Homo sapiens: one gene and its partners. The protein of the gene in region 5 purifies or fractionates together with the protein of the main gene of each other region. This does not show direct contact. Each region holds a gene or a part of one and is shown on either strand. Other genes may lie near its edges.

The links.
Region 1: the proteins of CNKSR3 (region 5) and MTCL1 purify together in Homo sapiens (co-immunoprecipitation; one large-scale study listed by IntAct). This does not show direct contact.
Region 2: the proteins of CNKSR3 (region 5) and PTPRK purify together in Homo sapiens (co-immunoprecipitation; one large-scale study listed by IntAct). This does not show direct contact.
Region 3: the proteins of CNKSR3 (region 5) and SAMD10 purify together in Homo sapiens (co-immunoprecipitation; 2 studies listed by BioGRID and IntAct, with this or other methods). This does not show direct contact.
Region 4: the proteins of CNKSR3 (region 5) and DENND10 purify together in Homo sapiens (affinity purification with mass spectrometry; one large-scale study listed by BioGRID and IntAct). This does not show direct contact.
Region 6: the proteins of CNKSR3 (region 5) and AZGP1 purify together in Homo sapiens (co-immunoprecipitation; one large-scale study listed by IntAct). This does not show direct contact.
Region 7: the proteins of CNKSR3 (region 5) and DIP2B purify together in Homo sapiens (affinity purification with mass spectrometry; 2 studies listed by BioGRID and IntAct, with this or other methods). This does not show direct contact.

What each region holds. Positions count from the first base shown.
Region 1 is NC_000018.10:8,830,417-8,833,278, reverse strand, and holds the end of MTCL1 (microtubule cross-linking factor 1), read right to left. Parts: intron 1,673-2,862; coding exon 1,439-1,672; 3' UTR 501-1,438; downstream 1-500. UniProt on the Homo sapiens protein: Microtubule-associated factor involved in the late phase of epithelial polarization and microtubule dynamics regulation.
Region 2 is NC_000006.12:127,975,100-127,978,599, forward strand, and holds part of PTPRK (receptor-type tyrosine-protein phosphatase kappa isoform b precursor), read right to left. Parts: intron 1,956-3,500; coding exon 1,824-1,955; intron 1,684-1,823; coding exon 1,558-1,683; intron 1-1,557. UniProt on the Homo sapiens protein: Regulation of processes involving cell contact and adhesion such as growth control, tumor invasion, and metastasis. Negative regulator of EGFR signaling pathway. Forms complexes with beta-catenin and gamma-catenin/plakoglobin.
Region 3 is NC_000020.11:63,973,616-63,976,642, forward strand, and holds the end of SAMD10 (sterile alpha motif domain-containing protein 10), read right to left. Parts: intron 2,218-3,027; coding exon 2,077-2,217; intron 1,918-2,076; coding exon 1,895-1,917; 3' UTR 501-1,894; downstream 1-500.
Region 4 is NC_000010.11:119,117,613-119,121,112, reverse strand, and holds part of DENND10 (DENN domain-containing protein 10), read right to left. Parts: coding exon 3,446-3,500; intron 773-3,445; coding exon 661-772; intron 1-660. UniProt on the Homo sapiens protein: Guanine nucleotide exchange factor (GEF) regulating homeostasis of late endocytic pathway, including endosomal positioning, maturation and secretion, possibly through activating Rab proteins such as RAB27A and RAB27B.
Region 5 is NC_000006.12:154,402,686-154,406,185, reverse strand, and holds part of CNKSR3 (connector enhancer of kinase suppressor of ras 3), read left to right. Parts: 3' UTR 1-3,500. UniProt on the Homo sapiens protein: Involved in transepithelial sodium transport. Regulates aldosterone-induced and epithelial sodium channel (ENaC)-mediated sodium transport through regulation of ENaC cell surface expression.
Region 6 is NC_000007.14:99,966,230-99,969,630, reverse strand, and holds the end of AZGP1 (zinc-alpha-2-glycoprotein precursor), read left to right. Parts: intron 1-1,200; coding exon 1,201-1,476; intron 1,477-2,344; coding exon 2,345-2,628; 3' UTR 2,629-2,901; downstream 2,902-3,401. UniProt on the Homo sapiens protein: Stimulates lipid degradation in adipocytes and causes the extensive fat losses associated with some advanced cancers. May bind polyunsaturated fatty acids.
Region 7 is NC_000012.12:50,503,566-50,507,784, reverse strand, and holds the start of DIP2B (disco-interacting protein 2 homolog B), read right to left. Parts: upstream 2,801-4,219; 5' UTR 2,645-2,800; coding exon 2,545-2,644; intron 1-2,544. UniProt on the Homo sapiens protein: Negatively regulates axonal outgrowth and is essential for normal synaptic transmission. Not required for regulation of axon polarity. Promotes acetylation of alpha-tubulin.

The DNA of each region.
Region 1 (2,862 bases), on a different chromosome or scaffold from region 5:
AAATTGTTGGGTTAATGAAGCACTAAATGAAATACTAAAGCCAGAAGCTTCAGCCTGAAATCATTCTTTTTGGGCTCTTCAGTAGCATCACTTCTTTCTACTCCACCAAACACTGAGAGGCGGGCTCATCTCAGGATCAGAGATGGAAAGGCCTCTTCTAGAGTTATTGGCCACTCCCTCTCTCCTAATGAGCAGAGCGGGCAGAGAGGCCGGGCACACTCTGACTTGTAGGTAACCAGTTTCCTCACATCCCTGCCCACACCACAGTTTTGGCTTTTCAACAATAAAGCTGTCTCTCTATCCTAGGACTCTCTTACGGGGAACAGTAAAACTGCAACATGATCACGTACCCAAAGAGTGCATTCCCAGCAAGATATATTAGCAGCTGTTGCCTCTTTACATGATCTCCTCTCTCCCTCATTCCCCTAGCTATGGAAAACTTTCCATCTGAGTCCTTAGGAAAAGATGGAGGGTGTGTGAAATGAGAGACCGAGACATGCTGCCATCTCAGAAGGGCTTTATTTCTACTTCATCACGGTCTCATACAGACCCAGAGGCATCATCATGTGTTTCCATTTGGTATCCTTGTGACTTTTTGTAGTGTTTTCCCTTAAGAAAACTTTGAGTAAACTCTGTACATTGCCAGTTAATCTTTTCACAATAATTTAAAAATGGTGTTGCTGTTGGATCATCGATGCAAGAAGACCAACAATAAAAGTACAGTACAAGGAAATTCACAACATATTACAGTGGAACAGACTGAGTCACATTTAGGTGATGGCGAGGACACAGTAGCGGTATATACATGCACCCGAAGACGTGCAAGCCAAGTAGGATAATATAAGGATCATACAGTGAATTTTCTAAGCCCACTGAGGACTTTGTACCTTTTCAAAATCATCCTGTATCCCCTCCAGCATACAGAATATCTGTCTTGTCTACTGGCTTCATGGCTTTTTCACTACAAAAAGTTCACTGAATCAGACAGTCTGAAGCATTAAAAAATTCGTAAAAAACAGTAACACTGACAAAATAAAATTAACTTAATCCACTCTAATTCAACATGGAAATAAACTGAACCAAAATGTAACAGTGCAAATTTAACAGAGGCAGTCAGGTATTGACAGCGAGGGTGTTCAGAATCTCTTAAAATGTACATTTTTTAAAACTTTTATTTTTTAAATCTATTTATACCTTATTTACCTTTTCGTTTAATATACTGTGTGTAAAAAAGATGGAGACAAAAATAGTTTTCTGAGCTATGAAAAAAATTAAGTTATTACAGGCACATTTACTGTTTCATTCTAGAAACATCTCAGTTTCACAGGTTGAACATTCAGCAGCTTTGTGTTTTTAAAAAACATTCTTTGACCTTGAGAAAACTAGATCTCTCCTGTTGGGCAGAGTTTTGTTCATGGTGATGGTGTGGTTATGCAAATTACAGTGAATTATACTGTGATAATCCATGCAAGCTTGCATCTCGGTGTGGCTGCTCCTCGGGCGGCTCCTCGCCACCATGCTCCTCCAAGGACGTCGGGTCTCCGGGTGACTGAGGCTGTGAGGCAGTGGGGGAATGTGGGGCCCAACGGGACGGAGGGCGACGGTTTGCTGGTCTCTCGGGCCTGGAGAAGCAGGGCTCTAGGGATGGAGCTAGTGCAGAACAAGGTAGTTCCTTCAGAGCCGAGAAAGGGAGACAGGGTTACTCAGACCGGCAGTGTCACCAGTGGATGATTCCCCCAAACACACTTCTCAACAGACTCAAGTGAGATGAAGTATACACCACAGGCAACTCGTGAATATTAACTACTTTCTATGCTCATGCAGAATAACTTAAAATAATAAAGAATTCAACACAAATGATCAGTGACATGAATGGGAAGAGACCAATTATGATTAAACACAGCAATACTGTGAGATGAGTCAGCTTGCAAAGCTCCTTTAGAATTGGGCTGGGGTATACAGAAGGCATGACACAGTGACTGTGGCAGCGGTCTCCACAGGCCACTTCATCATATTCCTATCTGGTAGATCTGTTCATTTGGCCCTTTTGTATGATCTATTTAGCTACAGTGGACAAGTGAACTGGTCCTACAGGGCCTGGATCTACTGGGAGCCCACAAAGAGACCTCTGATTTCATTCAGCTGTGTTAGCAATGGCAGTCGTCTTAAACGAACTCTGCTACTGTTTATTTGAAATTGACTGGGAGTAGCTTAAACAAACTCCCACAACATGGCAAAAATGCTGCAGGCAGAAATTTTAATTTGGGTCTGGTTTTCTTTAATGACTGTTCAATTGCAGCAGCATTTTAAAAAGGTAGAATCAGAATGTACTGGTGGTTTTGTGTTTCAGGCATCCTAATGTTCTGCGAGCAGGTGATGCAAGACACACTCAACCATGTGCAAATCACCTAGAATCCTTATTCTCAAGCTACTTTGTTTTTAAAGAATGTTGAGCTCCTTGTCCTTACATGTTACAAAACCAGGACACCCAAATTTGGAATTTGCTGATACACAGAAATGTAAAAAGCTGTGGCATGAGAAAACTGAGTTGCCCAGCATGGAGCCCGCTGGCTGGAATGACACTCAGACACTGGAAGCTTGAGGTGAACTGAATGGAAGGCACAGGAAGGATGACAGAGAACAAGGACCCTCAAAGAAAGGAAGTGAGTTGGAGGATTTAAAAAGATGTGACAAGCAACTGAAAAGACCAGGATGAGGACAGCCCAGCCAGTGGTGCAGGGGAGCAGCAGCGGGGGAAGGACAGACGGCTGCACGGAATGGGCAGTGTCACTCGGGAGAAGATGGAACACGGCAGAGACAGCATGGCCCGAGGACAGCGTGGGAGCCACAGGCTTCCAGAAG
Region 2 (3,500 bases), about 26 Mb from region 5:
ATGTACTAATAAGGACCAGAATACCAAATACAGAGGCAGTTCAATAAGTAAGCAAACAAATAAATAAATATGCTGACAAAAATATAACATTTCAGTTCCTGTTCCTAGAATATTTTTCACATAAACTGCTCAATTAACAGACAAGCCTTACTGTCTTCAGCAGTTCTGTTTTTTTCCAACTCAAATATTACTAGAACCATAATGTAACAGATGTGCAGACATAATGAGATTCCATTTAAATTAACATCTAAGATATGCATGAATATTATGAGATGATTGAAGTTATCCTTTTTTTCTCCACTGAAATGAGCAATAGGAGTCGATATGATTCCATTCCCTGCTCATAGTTATATACATATAGACTTATTAACCAGACACACACGTAGTCATTTTGATATGAGAGACACTGAAACATGATAATCCTAATCACACACTTAAAATACATACCCACAGAGCTGGTGCTTTAAAAAACAGAGTAATGTTTCTCTCTAAAAAGAGCTTAATTTCATGAAAGTTACTAATGTTTTCTTTTCCAATTCTGCTTGTTATTTGGTTACATAATCTAAATTGTTTTTATTAATATCTTTTTTTGGGGGACGAAGTCTCGCTCTATACAGCCTGGGGTGCAGTGGCGTGATCTCAGCTCACTACAACTTCTGCCTCCCGGGTTCAAATGATTCTGCTGCCTCAGCCTCCCCACTAGCTGGGACTACAGGCATGCCACCACCATGTCCAGCTAATTTTTGTATTTTTAGTAGAGATGGGGTTTCACCACGTTGCCAGGCTGGTCTTGAACTCCTGACCTTATGATCTGCCCGCCTTGGCCTCCCAAAGTGCTGGAATTACAGGCATGAGGCACTGTGCCCGGGCTTTATTAGCACTTTTTTTTTTAAGATCTTCCCCACCCACATTGAATTTGTCATGTAGTGGAAAGCAAATGAGGAGTCAGAGAAAGACGATACAGTTACTACTTTGCTGCTGGGAAAAGGCATGGTGGTAGCAGCACTGGTTCTACCTTTAGATCTGCTTAGAGCCATAGGTTGAGACGTTTAGGAAGATGAAATTGCAGGTAGGATAATCAATAATGAACTTGGAACAGTGACATGGAACCCTTCTATAATGGTTGATCCAACATGTCTCTTTCCTCCTGCAGTACAGTTTCTCTGTCATTATTGTTATTGCAATGTTCTTATTTTTTTTATCACATGCCATTTCTGGGCTGGATGTCAATACTAATAAAACATGCAGTCATCCTTAAGATAAGTCTACATACACTCAGAGGCCAGGCCTAGGCTGTCCAACTTGACTGAGCCAGTGCATCTGTATTTCCTGAGAGAATATGCTAGTCTAGTGACTGACCGAAAAACCTAGCTTCCAGCATTTCTGTTTTCCTGTATTTTTATTCGAGTACTAAGGCATAAGATGGTTACTAGCTTTGAGGTGGATGATATAGTGCTTATTAATTGTAGTCTCCCTGTTGTCTGAATAAAATTATACCACATCTTGGTTATGACTGACCTATTCTAGATCAGCTCAAAGGATCCGATAGTGACTTACTCTTGTTAGATTGCATATCCTAAAAATCCGGTTGATCACATCACAGTCCATTGAACAAGACATACATTCCACTTGGATGGGGCCATATCGTAGCATCCCTTCCTCTGGCCAGTACTGAGGGCAGCCCTAAATGATGAACGTTTTGAAAGAAAAAAAAAAAGAGTATTATTTTTTCTAGTTAGGAGAGTATAAAGCAGATTTTAGCAATTCATTACTACTCTATTAAGTTGTATATAAGTACATAAAAGCAATCCATAGCCATTAACCTGGGACAAGTCGACTTCGTTTAACATCACAATGGAGGTACAGCCATAATCATACACTAATCTCCAGAAGTCTTTTACAGTGTTTGGCAGAGGGTATTGTGTGACGATGAAAGCAGCTGGTTGCCTGTAGCTCTGTGAAGAAACAAGGTAGATGGAGAAATATAAAAACTTAAAATGTATGATCGGTTGTACAAACAGATACAATACACTTCAATGTAGGACCAGTAAGATGCAATAGCTTCATATGCAGAAGGAGCCAGAGTGATGATTAAACCATGGAATAGGAGATTCAGACCACTGGAATGAACTGAATTAGTACAGTAATGAATCAATTTGGTGGAAGACTTCAATGCTTCCAAAGCAATTCAAGTCAATAACTGAGTTTTTACTTTACTGAAAGACGTAAATACAGGACAAATACAAAAGAAGAAACTAAAAAGCTTCTGAGGTTAACATCCTCTGTAAGGTTCCTGTTGGGCTATTTCAATTTTCCAAACGTAATCAGTCTCTGAGAGGCTGAAGGCAAAGTAAGCACAAAACCCCTGGTATGTCTATCAATCATCTGGGTATGTGTATAGTGTGTGTGCGTGCAAGTAAAATTGTTTTACTCTTCTCCACTCCAAATAAGAAAAACCACAAGTAGCTCAAACACTTGTGCTTTTACATTATGTGGACACTACCAGGATATTCTGCACATCTTGCAGACAATCCACCTTCCACAGCTTCCTGGGCATTTCTAACATATATCAAAGGTCATAATGACAGTCTCAACCATTTAAGATCCTGAAGCACCAAAGCATAACAGCAATATATTTCCTGTCCCCACATAAGCGGGGAGATAGCTCCTTGTTAACCAAGTCCTCCTTGATTAGAACACAATATATTATCTCTTTCCAAAGGGAGAAGTAGTAAAAACAATATTTATCTGGACTGGACAATTGCCATTTGATTTAAACTAATTATTTGCAATAATAATAATAATAATTAGTAGATTATAGAGTTCCCTAATGCTGACAAAAATTTTCAATGATCTTGTAACTCATTTGTATCATACTACTATTTAAGTCCTTCAAGAATCTTAACATCAGCACAGGAACTGGTTCTTGGACTTCACTGATGCTACCACCATTTGGGAAATGCTACCAACCATGGCATTCAGCGTTGGCTGAAGACTGCAGGATAAATCTGAGTAGATGACAATAATAATTTACCTGGCTACTTCTAAATGACCTCAAAACCTTACCAAGTTACACGTGCAGCTGGGATGAGTGTCTCCTAAGAAAGGCAGGAAGGTTCATGAGTCATATTGTTTGGCTCTGTGTCCCCACCCAAATCTCACCTAGAATTGTAATAATCCCCACATGTCAAGGGCAGGACCAGGTGGAGATAATTGAATCATGCAGGCAGTTTCCCCCATGCTGTTCTCCAGATAGTGAGTGAGTTCTCATGACATCTGGTGGTTTTATAAGGGGCTTCCCCCTTTGCTTGGCACTCCTTCCCCTTCCTGCCACCATGAGAAGAAGGACGGGTTTGCTTCCCCTTCGGCCATAATTGCAGGGATCCTGAGGCCTCCCCAGCCCTGTGGAACTGTGAGTCAATTAAAACTCTTTCCTTTATAAATTACCCAGTCTCAGGTATGTTTTTATTAGCAGTGTGAGAATGAACTAATACAATGAG
Region 3 (3,027 bases), on a different chromosome or scaffold from region 5:
AGGAGATTATCCTGTATTACCCAGGTGGCCCCAAATCCAAGCATCCTTATAAGAGAGAGACAGAGGGAGATTTGAGAGACAGAAGAGGAGGAGGTGATCTGATTACAGAGGCGGAGACGGGTAATGCCCATGCGCCCGAGTTCCCCCGGCAGCCACTGGAAGCTGGAGAGGTGAGGAGTCGCCCCAGGAGGCCCTGAGGGAGCTGGATTTTGGACTGCGGCCTCCAGAACTCCAGAGAGAATGAATGTCTGCTGTTCTCAGCACCCCTCCGTGGTCCTCTGTCACGGCAGCCGCGGGACCCTCACGCGCTGTCTGGGCCGTCCCTTCCAGCGTGTCGGGCGTTGTGTCCAGCACTGGGGACCGCCCACAGGCGTGACTTGAGCCCTGTTTCCAGCCTCTGCGCGGGGTTGCCCAGACGCCCCTCCAGGGCGTGACGCCACTGCCCCCTGGTGGCCGCGGCTGCCCAGACGCCCTCTCCTCGCAGACCCAGCACCGCCAGCACTTGGGAACCAGCTTTATTTCTGATTTTTTTTTTTTGTCAGAGTATAAAAAAGTGAGTGCAGCAAAACAAGGAAGACGAGACAGGCGTGCGTGGGCCAGGGCAAGACAGAGGAGAAGGGAGGGAAGCAGAGGCAGAAGGGCCCCTTGGGCGAAGGCTGATGGTGGGAGGCGGGCAGAATACTTGCGCAGCCACACAGGGGCAGGGATGAGGGTCTCCCCGTGGTGGGGGCTTACAGGATGGGAGCGGCCAGGCCAGTTGTCCAAATTCCACCTGGGACCTGCAGTGACCAGCCTCGAGTCTGGAGGCTCAAAGCACACAGAGGGGACTAGGGGCTCAGCCTCATCTGTCCCTGAGATTTTCAGAAGCCACAGGGGGACTGGGAGAGGGCAGAGGCGCAAGAGGGTGGAGGCGGCTAGGGCCGCCCTCACTGTCCTTCCGCCAGGCAGCACCAGCCCCAAACCACCCAGAGAGGGGTTGCTCAGGCCTCTGGGAGGGTGTAAGGGGAGTGGCCCTGGGAAGGCCTCTCCCCTGAATCCAGGCCTTCTTGGGAAAGCAGCAATGGGAAGGCCCACGCACAAGGCCCTTGTTCTTGAGGGCGAGGGGGGAAGACCATAAAAGCAAGATTTTCCCAAAGATAGGGCAGGGAGCACTGCTAAGCCTGGGCCCTGGGCGCGGAGCCACCTGGACAGGGCTGGGGTTCTCGTTGTGCCACATTTTGTCTCTGGCGCTTGGTCAATCTGGTCCTTTCTCAGCTTTACTTCTCATGAATAGAGGGGGTGTGGTGACGATGTATAAATAATGATGAAAGTGCTTGGCATGGTGCCCGTTAGGCGGGTGCTGATGGCCACTACTCTAGATGATGGGTTGGCCTGCTGGGCCCTGGCAGGTGCATGGGCACAAGCCACAGGGAGCCGAGGCAGCTTATGGTACCTGTGTGGGCCAACCTGGAGGTGCTGGGGAACGACCTAGAACTGGGCTGGGTGGGTGGACAGACAAGTGACTCAGCAGGCGATGGGGGACCGACATCACGTGGAGAGGGGAATGTAAATAAACAGACTCCCTGGGAGTCTAGGGGGGACATCCAAACCGGTTCTGGCTCCAGGCAGCTGCCCCACATGCTGCCAGCTGCACCAGGGGAGGGCTTGGGCTCAGGTCCCAGGAGGTGGGGCCACACTCAAGCAGCCCCCTACCCACCCAGCCCCAGGGCACGACCTGGAATGTCCAACCAGAGGCGCCTGGAGGTGTGATCCTGGTCCTGTCTGTCCGTTGGGCCAGCCTGGCCGCCCCGGCATCCCGCAGGGTCCAAGAGGCGCTGCGGGGCCAGCTTGGCCTCCTCCCTAGCCGTGGACTCCCATCACAGTGCTGGGGTCTGGGTTCAAGCCTCAGCAGCAGCTAGGACATTTTCCCGAAGGAAGCTGTGTGATGGAAGAGGGTGAGAATGGGGTGGGGTCTTTGGCATCATCTGCATTAGGGCGCTTACTGGGGCCTGCAGCCGACCTCCTGAGGTCATCCCACCCCACACTCAGAGGGGCTTCTCCATCAGCCCCCAGGCCTCTCTGGCACCTCACACTGACCTTGGCTGAGCAGCTGCAGGCTCCGCCCCTCCTCACGCACCTGCAGGCGGAGCACCTGCTGCAGCACCTCCTGCCTCTGGGCCTCCTGGGCCAGCCCCATCCGCTGCAGCTTCTCCGCATTCAGCCGCAGCAGTGCCCGGCCTGGGGAGAGGAAAGAGGGGCTGAGCTGAGGCCAACAGAGGCATCAAGAGCCAAGGCAAGGCTGGTGCCATGGCTCATGCCTGTGATCCCAGCACTTTGGGAGGCCGAGGCGGGCAGATCACTTGAGGTCAGGAGTTCAAGACCAGCCTGGACAACATGGTGAAACCCCGTTTCTACTAAAAGTATAAAAATTAGCTGGGCTTGGTGGTGTGCGCCTGTAGTCCCAGCTACTCGGGAGGCTGAGGCGGGAGGATCACTTGAACCTGGGAGGTGGAGGTTGCAGTGAGCTGAGATCGTGCCACTGCACTCCAGACTGGATGACAGAGCGAGACTCCTTCTCAGAAACAAACAAACAAACAAACAACAAACTGAGCCAAGGCAGAAGCAGGGACTGAAAGAGAAAAAGGGAGGAGAGAGAGAGGAAGCGGGAAGCACGGGCACAGAGAGACTCGGAGAGAGGGAGGAGAGAGAGAGGAAGCGAGGTTCAGAGAGACTCAGAGGGAGAAAGAGAATCAGCAAAACACACAGAGACTTAAAGGAGAGAGGCAGAGGGAAAGGAAGGAGAGCAAAAGGCAGGGACGGAACAGAGAAAAGCCAGATGAAGACAGCACAGAGAGATGGGAAGAGACACAGAAGAAAGGCAGAGAGGTCCGGACGCAGTGGCTCACACCTGTAATCCCAGCACTTTGGGAGGCTGAGGCAGGCGGATCACCTGAGATCAGGAGTTCGAGATCATCCTGGGCAACACAGTGAAACCCTGTCTCTACTAAAAATACAAAATTAGCCAGGCGTGGTGGTGCATGCCTGTAA
Region 4 (3,500 bases), on a different chromosome or scaffold from region 5:
CCGGGCACAGTGGCTCACACCCGTAATTCCAGCACTTTGGGAGGCCAAGGCATGAGGATCACTGGAGCCTATGAGTTTGAGACCACCCTGGGCAACACAGCAAGACCCCATCTCTACTAAAAATGAAAATAAAATTTAAAAAATCTATATGTACTATCAAAGTAAGAGTCTTTGTCCTGCTCTAAAACTTTTTAATTAAAACAAGAAAAAAAAAAGAGTCTTTGATAAAACTGAACAGAAGGAACAATTTACCTGAAACGGGTCAGCAAACTATGGCCCACAGCCTAGCTGCCTGTCCTTGAAAATAAAATTTCATTGACCACAGCCATGCTGAGTCATTTATGTACGTGTCCTCCATGGTTGCTTTTGTGCTACCTAGGCAGTTGAGTAGTTGGGGCAGTGACCATATGGCTCACAAACCTAAAATATTTACTGTCTGGCAAGGAAAAGTTTGCTAATCCCCTGCTCTAAAATAGTCATAAATAGTCCAAATCAGTAACCTTGAACTACTAGAGCTAAACAGAAACTTCAGACCAAAGGTGGTATTTCACCACATGCTATTTATAGCAAATGTGCAACACAGCAGAGCACACAGTAACATCTAGTGCTGCGAACTGTCTGCCAACAAAGTTAACACTTTTTTATAATTAGAGGTGATACCTGGTGAACTCCTGGACCGCTTCTATCTTGGGGTGATACACCACAATTCTTTTCTTTAGCATCAGTGCTGTGTGTAAGATAACAGTTTCCATTCCAAACTGAGATACAATGTCTTCAAAAAAGAGAAATTGTAATGTTACTGCATTACACATCATGCAAAGAAATAAAGATTTTTTTTTCTTTTTTTCTTTTTTCTTTTTTTTTTGAGACCGAGTCTCACTCTGTCACCCAGGCTGGAATGCAGTGGCAAGATAGTTGCTCACCGCAACCTCTGCCTCCTGGGCTCAAGCGATTCTCCTGCTTCAGCTTCCCGAGTAGCTGGGATTACAGGCACACACCACCACACCTGGCTAATATTTGTATTTTTAGTAGAGACGGGGTTTCACCATGTTGGCCAGGCTAATCTCGAACTCCTGACCTCAAGTGATCCACCCACCTCAGCCTCCCAAAGTGTTGGGATTACAGGTGTGAGTCACAGCACCTGACGTACAAAATTATTTTTAATACAGAGAATTTAGGCAAATGTTGTAAAGCATACAAACACTTTATTTGGTGGAAGAGTAGATCTATCCTATGTCAGCTTCCCAGGACGTGTGCTCTGCCCCGCAAGGGACTCTATGATGGGATGCATAGAGGAAGCTAGACTCACAAAAAACTGAAACAACTGATGTGAAGGGAACCAGCATCTTTCTGTATCATTAAAACTTCCTGATTTAAAAAAAAAAAAAAAAATGTCTGCCAGGTGCAGGGTGACTCATGTCTGTAATACCAACACTTTGGGAGGCCAAGGTGGGAGGATCACTTGAGCCCAGGAGTTTGAGACCAGCCTGGGCAACACAGGGAGACTGTCTCTAAAAAATGTTTAAAAATTAGCTGGGGCTGGGCACAGTGTCTCACACTGTAATCCCAGCGCTTTGGGAGGCCTAAGCAGGCAGGTCATCTGAGGTCAGGAGTTTGACACCAGCCTGGCCACCATGGTGCAACCCCATCTCTACCAAAAATACAAAATTAGGCTGGGCACAGTGGTTCACACCTGTAATTCCAGCACTTTGGGAGGCCGAGGCGGGTGGATAACCTGAGGTCAGGAGTTCGAGACCAGCCTGGCCAAAATGGTGAAACCCCATCTCTACTAAAAATACAAAAATTAGCGGCCGGGCGCGGAAGCTCATGCCTGGAATCCTAGCACTTTGGGAGGCCGAGGCAGACGGATCACCTGAGGTCAGGAGTTCGAGACCAGCCTGACCAACATGGAGAAACCCCATCTGTACTAAAAATACACAATTAGGCAGGCGTGGTGGCACATGCCTGTAATCCCAGCTACTTGGGAGGCTGAGGCACTTGAACCCAGGAGGCGGAGGATGCGGTGAGCCAAGATCGCGCCACCCAGCCTAGGCAACACTTGTTGGAGCAAAACTCCATCTCAAAGAAAAAAAAAAAAAAAATTAGCTGGGTGTGGTGGCAGGTGCCTGTAGTCCCAGCTACTTGGGAGGCTGAGGCACGAGAATCACTTGAACCTGGGAGGCAAAGGTTGCAGTGAGCTGAGATTGTGCCACTGCACTCCAGCCTGGGTGACACAGTGAGACTCTTGACTCAAAAAAAAAAAAAAAAAAAAAAATTAGCTGGGCATGGTGGTGTGCACCTGTAGTCCCAGCTACTCGGGAGGCTGAGGTGGAAGGATTGCTTGAGCCCAGGAAGTTAAGGCTACAGTGAGCCGTAATTGTACCACTGCACTTCAGCCTCAGTAACAAAGCAAGACCCTGTCTCAAAAGGAAAAAAAAAAGTCTATTAACTCCCCCATGTCCCCCAGTATAATTACTTAAGTCCTTAAGTTAGCCTGACAAACACCTACCACCTCAACAGGGATGCTGAGAAAATTCAAAGAACAGCGGGATCAAAAGGAAAGACAGATGGGCACCATGGGAGGACATGACAGAGGGCAGCCTCGCCTTCAGAGTTCCCCTCGCCTCCTGCTCAGGGACCCTGAAGTCTGTGGCTTAGGCCTGAGCTGTCTGCATTTTGGATTTTCCAGCTGGAACTTAAATTAGGAGTTTGTGGTCAAGGCCTTGGGCTCTTCAGATGACAGAGATAACTGCTAAGATCTAAGAAAAGAAATGTAATCCATGAAGACCTCGAGGCACAAAATTCAGCCCACCAGCGAGAAAATATTTCTAAAATAGCCAATAGAATAATATGGAAACAAACACCACAAAAACCTGTTTTCCTCTGAGAGAATTCTAACTCAATAAGGAAATACGGGGGTTAAAGGCACCCTCTTGTGTACAAATGATATGAAAAATATGTAAATGAAAATAACGTATGGAAGGATTAGAATTATCTAATAACTAGATAATTCTAATTAGATAATCTAATTATGTAATTATTCTATTAGGCACAATAGGATCTAATGAGACTGTTTTTGGCTTGGGGATTTTGTTGTTGGAAGGGTTTTGTTTTTACCTTCTTTTTTTTGTTTTTTGTTTTTTTTTTGAGACGGAGTCTCGTCTGTTGCCCAGGCCGGAGTGCAGTGGCACAATCTCGGCTCACTGCAACCTCCGCCTTCCAGGTTCAACTGATTCTCCTGCCTCAGCCTCCCGAGTAGCTGGGATCACAGGCGGGTGCCACCACGCCCGGCTAATTTTTTGTATTTTTAGTGGAGACGAGGTTTCACCATGTTAACCAGGATGGTCTCGATCTCCTGACCTCGTGATCCACCCGCCTTGGCCTCCCAAAGTGTTGGGATTACAGGCGTGAGCCACCGTCCCTGGCCTGTTTTTTCCCTTCTTACCTTTGATGGAGCCAGCCAGGTAGGCCTTTCGGGCATCAAAATCCTTACTAAGGAA
Region 5 (3,500 bases):
GGGAACAAATTCAGAGGATCTTAGGTGCTGGCTTGTGGAGACAAAAGGAGGGAAATGGGTAGAGCCTGTTTGTCTTGCTTCCCCAGAGATAGAATGTGAAGACACGCGCTAGAAATCGCAGTCCTGGCCAGAGACGTTATGGTCATTGTGAGGGACTGGTGGCATTGTTCCTTTTTGAGGGGCTGGGGGGACTCAAATTGGTGGCTGTTTTCACACAGATGTGTTGGTTTGTGGTCCAACTTCTTTATCTGAAAAAGCCAGTGAGAAAACATTTTTGATTTGATTTTTCTAAACTATCTACCATATTTTAAGTGTAGCAGCTTTGACTTTGCAATAACGTGGCAAGTATCTGATTTCTCCTTTGAGGCAGAGGTTTAAGTGTAGGCCTGTTACACTTGTTTGATACCTTTTTCATGACAGTCTCAGTATAGATCAGTTGGTACAGAAATACATGAACACATTTTGATAGGGCTTATTTCACACAAAGAAGTTTATGGTTATTTGTGTGGGGTGGTGTTGTTATATATTATTGTCTTTAAGGGAAAAGAAGCTATAAGATTCGCTGACAGCCAAAGTATCATTTAGAAAAGTGAAGCAACAAGATTTAGGTTGATGAAAGATACATGAGTTTGCATTTTGACCTGTTCAGTGTCTGTCTTCCAGCACGGTGTGTACACTTCTTCAAAATTGTACACAGTTTGCTAATTAGAAATATCTTGGAAAGCCTCATGGTCACTAATTTTCAACTAGCATCAGGTATTTTGAAAACGTGTGTCTGGATATTAACTCTTGTTTAAACTGAATGTATGATATTTTGTTAGAATGGAAAAGTACTATCTTGTTAATTTAAGTATTTTAAATATAGTTGTATATTTTTCTTACTCTTAGTCACCTGTAATTGAAATATTTCTGTTTTGCGTCATACACGAAGCTAGTGAAAAAGAAAGTGCAAGGCATTTTCAGATGAGCAAGTGACTATCGTGGCTGTTGCCAGCAGGGCAGTATTGTTAAAAAAAATCAAAATAAACCCTCCCAAGCATTTTGGGATTTTATGGATTAGAAATGGAAGAACAGGAGAAGCATATGCAAAGTGAAATTGCACGAGGGGAATTTTCTGAGGTATCTTCCTAGGCAGAGCCGAAATCTCCTACTCCAAAATGCCCTTTCTCATACCACCGGAATTGTTGAGTTTGCTGAACTGCCTGGAATTCAGCCCATGAAAATCACTGGAGTTAGGAAACATCTTCCCTTTAAAATGCTTCTGGTGTGGTTAAAGGAACTAGCAACCACTCATGTATAATTACTGTGACTGAATTCAGTCAGGCTGGTTTTTTTTGTTTGTTTGTTTGTTTTTGAGATGGAGTCTCAATCTGTCACCCAGGCTGGAGTGCAGTGGCGCAATCTCAGCTCACTGCAACCTCCACCTTCCAGGTTCAAGCGATTCTCCTGCCTCAGCCTCCCATGTAGCTGGGATTATAGGTGCCCGCCACCATGCCTGGCTAATTTTTGTATTTTTAGTGGAGACGGGGTTTCACTACGTTGGCCAGGCTGGTCTCAAACTCCCAACCTCAACTGATCTGCCGGCCTCAGCCTCCCAAAGTGCTGGGATTACAGGCATGAGCCACCACACCCGGCTCAGTCTGGCTGTTTTCTTCTCTACCTCTAAGACAACTGCCATGAAGATCTGGTATTTCGGCCTGGCGCAGTGGCTCATGCCTGTAATTCCAGAACTTTGGGGGGCCAAGGTGGGTGGATTACCTGGGGTCAGGAGTTCAAGACCAGCCTGGCCAACATGGTGAAACCCTGTCTCTACTAAAAATCAGCTTCGCATGGTGGTGGGCACCTGTAGTCCCAGCTACTCGGGAGGCTGAGGCAGGAGAATCACTTGAACCCTGGAGGCGGAGGTTGTAGTGAGCCAAGATCAGGCCACTGCACTCCAGCCTGGGTGACAGAAGGAGACTCTGTCTCAAAAAAAAAACAAAAAGAAAAAGATCTGGTATTTCATGGAGACATGGAGACCCAAGGGTGTTTGGCAGATGGAGAGAAGAGGCTTGCAGTGTGTGACCACAGGGTGTTCAACACACTAGGAGGGTGGGGTGTGGGCTGGGGAGGTCTCGTGTAGGGCACTGGTGATGAGGAGGGAGCTGTGTACGAGGGGCGAGCCAGCCCTGCCTGTTTTACTCTTGTCTTGAGCTGGCTTTATGCCCAGGAAGTGGGTGGCAACATCTCCTCTTACTCCCCAGATTGTGGGGAGAACTCTAAGAGCTGTAGTTCCACTGGATGATGAGTTAAATCACTCTGGAGGCCTTAGCTGGCTGGTGAGCTCTTTTTCTGTGGGGAAAATGCCACTTGTGAATTGAACAGCCATCCTTTAAGTGAATATTCGGCAGTCAGTCTTCATTATAGGCAGTGGCCAACCAGATTGGTGCTTTTCAGCCTTTGTTCCCTGGAGTCCCAGGACCCGCGAGAGAAGTTCCTGGCTCCTCTACTTGCAGTCACCCTCCACAGCTTCATCTTTCTTTTTATTTGAGGTTTTCTCCTGAATTGTGTTTGAAAAATATATTGCTGCTAAAAAAAAAAAACCTTTGTAAACCTCTACTATGGACATACATAAATAATAGTTTAATATGGATTTCTTAGAAATTAATGGAAACTGCTTGCCTCAGTAGTAATCCAGGTTTAATTGTGGACGTGTGTTCACATATGAAGTTGCTTGATGATGCTTTTTGACAGGATTCTTTATTTTTATTTCTTTAAAAAAAATTTTTTTTTTTTTCTGAGACAGATTCTCACTCTGTCACCCAGGCTAGAGTGCAGTGGTACAATCTCAACTCACTGCAGCCTCTGCCTCCCAGGTTCAGGCAATTCTCCTGCCTCAGCCTCCCAAGTAGCTGGGATTACAGGTGCCCGCCACCACACCTGGCTAATTTTTGTATTTTTAGTAGAGATGGAGTTTCACCATGTTGGCCAGGCTGATCTTGAACTCCTTGACAGGATACTTTACAAGAGTGATTGTTAAAACTCTCCCAGACACAACTCAACACCTACCCCTATTATAATATTTTATAGCATCACTTTTCAATCTTCAAATGAAAATCATGGATGATGAAGCTTACCTTCACTCATAAAAACATCACTCCATTTACTATTCTGAAATGAAACTAGCAGGTAATATAACTAGCCTCTAAAACATACCCATCAGTGACGTTCTAACTGAAACAGATAAGATATTTTATAATGAAATAATTATTTTCATATGTACATATTCTAGCATGGTTATATTACAAGATGTAATTAAACTACTAAGCAGGGCACATACTTTGTATGTGTGTGTATAAATATAAATATGTGAAAAATCACCATGAATGTGGTAGTTACCAATTCAGACCTGCTGCATTGGCAGTTCAATACCAGGAAAGGGGTCGATGTCAGCAGTATGATTTTCTAAAATGTGGCCAATTCTTTAGATAAAGTTCTAGGCATACCTAGTCTGTAATGGC
Region 6 (3,401 bases), on a different chromosome or scaffold from region 5:
GCTATAGAAGAGATAGAAATATATTCATATTCTGTAGCTTTTTTTTTTTTGAGATGGAGTTTTGCTCTTGTCACCCAAGCTGGAGTGCAGTGATGCAATCTCAGCTCACTGCAAACTTTGCCTCCTGGGTTCAAGGGATTCTCCTGCCTCAGCCTCCCGATAACTGGGACTACAGGCTACAGGCATGTGTCACTACTCCTGGTTAATTTTTTTTTTTTTTTTAAGACTGAGTCTTGCTCTGTCTTTCAGGCTGATGTACAATGGCTCCATCTCGGCTCACTACAACTTCTGTCCCCCAGGTTCAAGCGATTCTCCTGCCTCAGCCTCATGAGTAGCTGGGATTACAGGCATGTGCCAGCACACCCAGCAAATTTTTGTATTTTTAGTAGAGATGAGGTCTTACCATGTTGGCCAGGCTGGTCTCAAACTCCTGACCTCAGGTGATCCTTTGGCCTCAGCCTCCCTAACTGCTGGGATTACAGGCATGAGCCACTGCGTCCAGCCTAATTTTATATTTTTGGTAGAGATGGGGTTTCACCATATTGGCCAGGCTGGTCTCGAACTCATGACCTAAGGTGATCCATCCTCCTCAGCCTCTCAAAGTGCTGGGATTACAAGTGTGAGCCACTGGGCCTGGTGCTTTTTTTTTTTTTTTTTTTTTTTTTTTTGAGATAGGGTCTCACTCTGTCACCCAGGCTGAAATGCAGTAGTGTGATTTTGGCTCATTGCAGCCTTGACTTCCCAGGCTGAAGTGATCCTCCCACCTCAGCCTCCTGAGTAGCTGGGGCTACAGGCATGCACCACCATGCTGCGCTAATTTTTATATTTTTTGTAGTGGTGGGATTTCGCCATATCACCCTGGCTGGTCTGGAACCCCTGGGCTCAAGCGATCCACTCGCTTCAGCTTCTCAAAGTGCTGGGATTACAGGCATGAGCCACAGCGCCCAGGCTGTAGCTCTCTTAAGGAGGAACATATCTCATCTGAGACAAACCTGAAATGCCAAACCAAACTGAGTTAGCCCCTCTCTGTCTGTTGTATATATTGGAGTAATAACCTATTTGTCTTGATAAAGGGATTGCATGCTTGAATTGCAAAAACCTTTATTTCTTTTGGGTTGCCCAATGTGCAAGACTAAGAGTTATTTTGATAAATTTCTCACCAGGCTGACTGTCTCTCTGTGGGGTCGGGGGAGTTTTCAGGGTCTCACGTATTGCAGGGAAGGTTTGGTTGTGAGATCGAGAATAACAGAAGCAGCGGAGCATTCTGGAAATATTACTATGATGGAAAGGACTACATTGAATTCAACAAAGAAATCCCAGCCTGGGTCCCCTTCGACCCAGCAGCCCAGATAACCAAGCAGAAGTGGGAGGCAGAACCAGTCTACGTGCAGCGGGCCAAGGCTTACCTGGAGGAGGAGTGCCCTGCGACTCTGCGGAAATACCTGAAATACAGCAAAAATATCCTGGACCGGCAAGGTACTCACTGCTTCCTGCTCCCCAGTACTGAGCCCAGAATAAAAGACGATCTCAGGCTAGGAGCTCAGGCAACATCTTAGTCCGGTCTCATCTGTTCCTGGATGTCCCTCAGACCCCCAGCTTTCATCTTTTAGGATTTATTCCTTCCCTGGGATAATATAATTTGTGGTCCAAAAAGAACATCATCAAAATTTCAGGCAGAATGGGCCAGGAAGGCCATTCTTTCTTGATGAGTGTCCCCAAATCATCTCCAATTAACAGACAAGGAGCTTGAGGTTAGGGAGGTGAGGGTAACACTGTCTGTAAGAGGCAGAGCTGGGACTCAAATTCCAGATTTCAGATTCCAAATCCCATCGTTTTTTATCTCTACAATGATGCCTCCCATCTGGGTGGTGGAGAGAAGGGAGGCGTGTAAAATGTCAGCCCCAGAAGGACAAGAGCAAGCCAGTGTGAGCGGAATTGATGGCTGCAAGCTGAGACTTGGATTGGAGACGTAGTGAGACTCAGGATTGTGCAGTGCTGCAGGGAAGTGGTTGCTGGATAGAGGCATGGGCTGAACCAAGCAGCTGGACTGAGACTGGGGGACAGAACTCCAAAGCCCACTGAGATGTGGGAAAACATGGAGAAGCACACGGAGCATTCACAACTTATTGCCGTCAGAGTCAATACATGGGTGAGGTGGGGATTGGGCAAGAGGGAAAGCGTCAGCCTTCCCTGATATTCTGGAAAGTCTCCCGGGGCTGGGGGTGGGCAGGTACAGAGCTTCGAGCTCTGCTGATCGCTGACATCCAGGGGTGGGGGTAGGAAGAGACCTGGGCCGGGAGAAGTCCACCTCAAGCCTGCAGTGTCACACTCTATCCCTCCACAGATCCTCCCTCTGTGGTGGTCACCAGCCACCAGGCCCCAGGAGAAAAGAAGAAACTGAAGTGCCTGGCCTACGACTTCTACCCAGGGAAAATTGATGTGCACTGGACTCGGGCCGGCGAGGTGCAGGAGCCTGAGTTACGGGGAGATGTTCTTCACAATGGAAATGGCACTTACCAGTCCTGGGTGGTGGTGGCAGTGCCCCCGCAGGACACAGCCCCCTACTCCTGCCACGTGCAGCACAGCAGCCTGGCCCAGCCCCTCGTGGTGCCCTGGGAGGCCAGCTAGGAAGCAAGGGTTGGAGGCAATGTGGGATCTCAGACCCAGTAGCTGCCCTTCCTGCCTGATGTGGGAGCTGAACCACAGAAATCACAGTCAATGGATCCACAAGGCCTGAGGAGCAGTGTGGGGGGACAGACAGGAGGTGGATTTGGAGACCGAAGACTGGGATGCCTGTCTTGAGTAGACTTGGACCCAAAAAATCATCTCACCTTGAGCCCACCCCCACCCCATTGTCTAATCTGTAGAAGCTAATAAATAATCATCCCTCCTTGCCTAGCATAACAGAGAATCCTTTTTTTAACGGTGATGCGCTGTAGAAATGTGACTAGATTTTCTCATTGGTTCTGCCCTCAAGCACTGAATTCATCTGAAACTCTTGGTTTCCCCTGGAGGCCATGGTTCCTGGGCACCTTGACCTGGGCAATCCCAAGTGTGGCCTGAACCCCCTTTCCCTTGGGGATTGTTCAGGTGTCCCTAGACGCCTTGTGGTATTGTACCTAATACCCATGAAGGGAGAGGATGATATTACTTGCCAGTGTACACCCCCCTGTGATATTGTTCATAATGTCCAGAGTGAAGAAAGATGATATTACTCCCAATATCACAGAAGGTGTACACCCCCCCTTGATATTGTTCCTAATACCCAGTTGGGGAGGGGAGAATATCTCTCCCAATATACAAGGGGTGTTTAAACTCTCTGTGATATTGTTCCTAATATTCAGGGGGGACAAGGATGATATTACCCAAATATTGCAGGGGTTGTACACCCCCCCTTTGAT
Region 7 (4,219 bases), on a different chromosome or scaffold from region 5:
GTTGGTGGATCATTTGAGGTCAGGAGTTTAAGATCAGCCTGGCCAACACGGTGAAACCCGGTCTCTACTATAAATACAAAAAAAATTAGCCCGGCAGTAGTGGCGCTTGCCTGTAATCCCAGCTACTGGGGAGGCTGAGGCAGGAGAACTGCTTGACCCTGGGAGGCGGAGGTTGCGGTAAGCTAAAATCGGGCAACAGTGTGAGACTCCATCTCAAAAAAAACAAACGAAAGAAAAGCATCTAAAACAAAAAAAGACAAAGTACTTATGTTAGAGCAGAGTAACTGTAGAGAAAATGCAAAACGAACAAACCTTAGCTCCAAATATGCTACAGGCATCACAAATAACACCATACTACACAGATATGGGGACTTTTGGATTATTTTAACTTCACTTGAATTCCTAATGTCTATCCACTTCTCCAGCCAACCATCCCCTGTACTTTAAGCAAGAAAGATGACCAATATGCTGACACTGCAGGCCCAAGTTTTTCAATTGTATTTTTTCCAGTCATCCATTGCTAAAACAAATGAAATACAAGAAGTGTAGTATATCTATAAGAAACAAATTCAAACCAAGTCAGATGCCAACCAAAATAATCCTTCATTGGAAAGCAAACCATGCACTTGTCCTTAAAATGTTTAAGCCTTGGCATTCACAATTTGTAGAAGTTTCACACCTTTCTGAAGGAGAGAGAGGTGAGCTAATCAGTGTGGGTCCTAGAAATAGTTCCTCAGAATGTTTCTAGACATTCTAGAGATGTCTAGAAACACCCAGAGATGTAAACAACAATCAGCTGGAAGCAGATATACCCAGAATAAGGAGCTTCCAGGATTTCCCTCTCCGTGTGAAAGCAATCAACTCCTATTTTTAATCTCCCTCTGACGCAAGCATCCAGGCAAACCTCTCTCTAATCAAAGCTAGATGATTTGTTACTTTCAAATAGCAGTTTTAAAAGTCAGATTTTAATGCAAGTCAACACAGATTTAATGTCAATGCTTTAGTCTAGGAGAAGAATGAGTTATCTTGAGAGACAGAATTGATGGTAATGCAAAAAGCTCCTCGATTTTCGAAGCGGGGGGAACTTAAGGTATAACTGGGCAGACAAACCCAGAGGATTCCTATCTTCTTAAACACTTCACAGAAACAAACTAATCTAATACCAGTGATTCCCGGGACTGGCCGAAGAATAACTTGAAAATTGGATTAATTGAAAAATAACATGTTGATAGTTAAGTACAGGTAAAAACAGCACTTTCCTACACATTGGGTTATTAAAAGGGTTATTAAAAATAATTATTTCCTTCAGTGCCCAACAGGATTTATAACATTCAACTCTATTTTTGGTTTTTCATTGTAAAGGATTCTCAGAGGGGAGGGAACCATAATGCCTTAATAAGTAAACAATAAGTAATGTTTAATAAGCTCCTGGGAGTTGGTCACATTCTTCTTTTCCAATCAAGAGTTTTTGATCCACTTGAAAAATGCTAGTGAAGAGGGCCTTCCACAAGGAACTCAGTAAGAATATGCAACTCTGGAGACACAATCAAAGTACTGGTATCAAGCTTGGAGAAAATGCTGCTTTTGTCTCAGGGGCAGCCAGTGATAAAAACAGGAACTTTACACAGAACTGATCACAACTGCCCCAGAAGCCTGATCACATGCCCACAACGGAGCACTGTGTTTCTCTCATTGTTGTACAAGGAGTTCTCTAATAACAGTGGCTTGATTTATCCCATTTTTTTTTTTTAATTCTGAAAATAAATCGAACCCTCCCTGTCCCAATCCATTGTCAAAAGAAAGAATGCCAGCCAGGATTTGCAAGTAAACGGTAGCCTCCTCTCCTTCCTTCATCAAAGACTCCAAAAGGTGACCAGATGCGGAAAATTCGGCCCGAATAACAGGCACCAGGAAAAAAAAAAACTTCTTATGACAAAGGTGGTCTAAAAGCAGCACCGTGTGTCTCTCTGGGTTAATGCCATTGCTTCTTATCTTCCTAGGACCCTAAATGGCTCACCCGCTTGTGTCTCACTCCTGTCACTGGGGAGGCATCGCGCATTGTTAAAGGAAAGAGAAGAAATGATGCTGCGGATTTCCCATGTGTCTCTTTTTGAAAGGGGGAAGGGGGGGCTGGAACAAGGCGTGGAGCCCTCCACGAAAAGGGGAGAGGAAAGGAGAAAGCTGTCAGCCACCCTCCTCGCAGCCCTACCCCTCACCCCACCTGGGCCAGACGCCTGGGCAGAAGCGGGAGGGCGCAGCTTTGTCTCGGGTTTTGGGGGGCAGGAAGCGCAGAAGCAGTGTGGGCCCGGGAGGACCTTTCCACAAGCCCTTACTTAGTCCCCTCCATGGGAAAACAATGAAAGCCACAGGAAACCACTTAATGGGGTGGGAGAGGAGGGAAAACGGTCGTGGAGCGCCAGGCCAGGTTCTCTACACCCTCGTCCCCCTCGCCGCACGGCCGCCAGAGCGCGCGGCGGGGACCTGTCTCCCAAGTCGCCGCGATCCGCAGGGCCCCGGGCGCCCTCTCCCCGGCCCGGCTCCTACCCTCCGAGAGCTCCAGCTCCAGCTCCGCCAGCTGCGCCCGCACTTCAGGCGGCAGCGCCGCCACCGCGGCCGGCGACGGCTCCAGGCCTCGTTCCGCCATCCCAGCTCCGCCAGCCACACTCCGGAAGACAAGAGAGGGGGCCGAAGGAGGGACGGACAGACACGGGCCCACACCCGGCTACAGGATCCGGCTCCGGCCGCCGAGCACCACCAGCACCGCCGCCGCCGCCGCCGCCGCCATGAGCAAAGGTCACGTGAGCGCGACGGCCCCCGCCCCCCGGCCAGGAGGACGCACCGCCTCTCCAGCCCAGTCAGGCTGAAGACGCATATGCTTACGGCGCCCTCTACTGGGAAGCTACCAGAACGACGGGCCCAAGCCCACCACTCGAATTTCCCTGCGCGAAATGGGCTCATGGTATGGACTGTCGGCTTTACCACAGTAGTGTGGACACATAGCATTTACCTTTCACTCTCGAGCAAGTTTTTAGGGGTCCCAGGCCTTACTTTTTCCAATACTAGACTTAGCAATGTATGTCTATCGTGTCCTTTACTCCATTTTCCCTGATTAATACCTGCCCATTTATAAAAACCTAATCACAGGCCACCTCCTTCGCTGTGGCTCCTGGTCCTATCTGCCAGGAGCTCTGTTTCCGTTTCAGTTTTAGCTTTTAAAAAGACAGGCGCGGTGGCTCTCGCCTGTAATCCTAGCACTTTGGGAGGCTGAGGCTGGTGGATCACCTGAGGTTAAGAGTACCAGGCTAGCCGACCGGGCGCGGTGGCTCACGCCTGTAATCCCAGCACTTTGGGAGGCCGAGACGGGTGGATCACGAAGTCAGGAGATCGAGACCATCCTGGCTGACACGGTGAAACCCCGTCTCTACTAAAAGTACAAAAAATTAGCCGGGCGTGGTGGCGGGCGCCTGTAGTCCCAGCTACTCGGGAGGCTGAGGCAGGAGAATGGCGTGAACCCGGGAGGCGGAGCTTGCAGTGAGCCAAGATCACGCCACTGCACTCCAGCCTGAGCGTGAGCGCGAGACTCCGACTCAAAAAAAAAAAAAAAAGAGTACTAGGCCAGCCTGGCCAACATGGTGAAACCCCGTCTCCAATAAAAATACAAAAATTAGCCGGGCGTGGTGGCGGATGCCTGTACTCCTAGCTACTCAAGAGGCTGAGGCAGGAGAATCACTTGAACCCAGGAGGCAGAGGTTACAGTAAGCTGAGATCGCGTCATTGCACTCCAGCCCGGGCAAGAGAGCAAACACTCCGTCTAAAGAAAAGAAAAAGACAATAGAGAGCAGGTCCACTTCTTTCTTTCTATACTTCTAACTACTTACAAGGAGGGAACTTACTTTAACTCATCCTCCTCACTCTGTGGCCTAATAGGTGTTCCAAAAACATTAATTTTAATTTAATATGAAGAGGGTCCAAGGCTAGGTGCAGTGGCTCACACCTATGATCCCAGCACTTTGGGAGGCCAAGGTGGGCGGATCACCTGAGGTCAAGAGTTCGAGACCAGCCTGGCCAACATGGCGAAACCCCGTCTCTACTAAAAACACAAAAATTAGCCGGGAGTAGTGGCACATGCCTGTAATCCCAGCTACCTGGGGGAGCTGAGGTAGGAACGTCGCTTGAACCCGGGAGGCCAAGGTTACAGTGAGCTGAGAACATGGCGGCT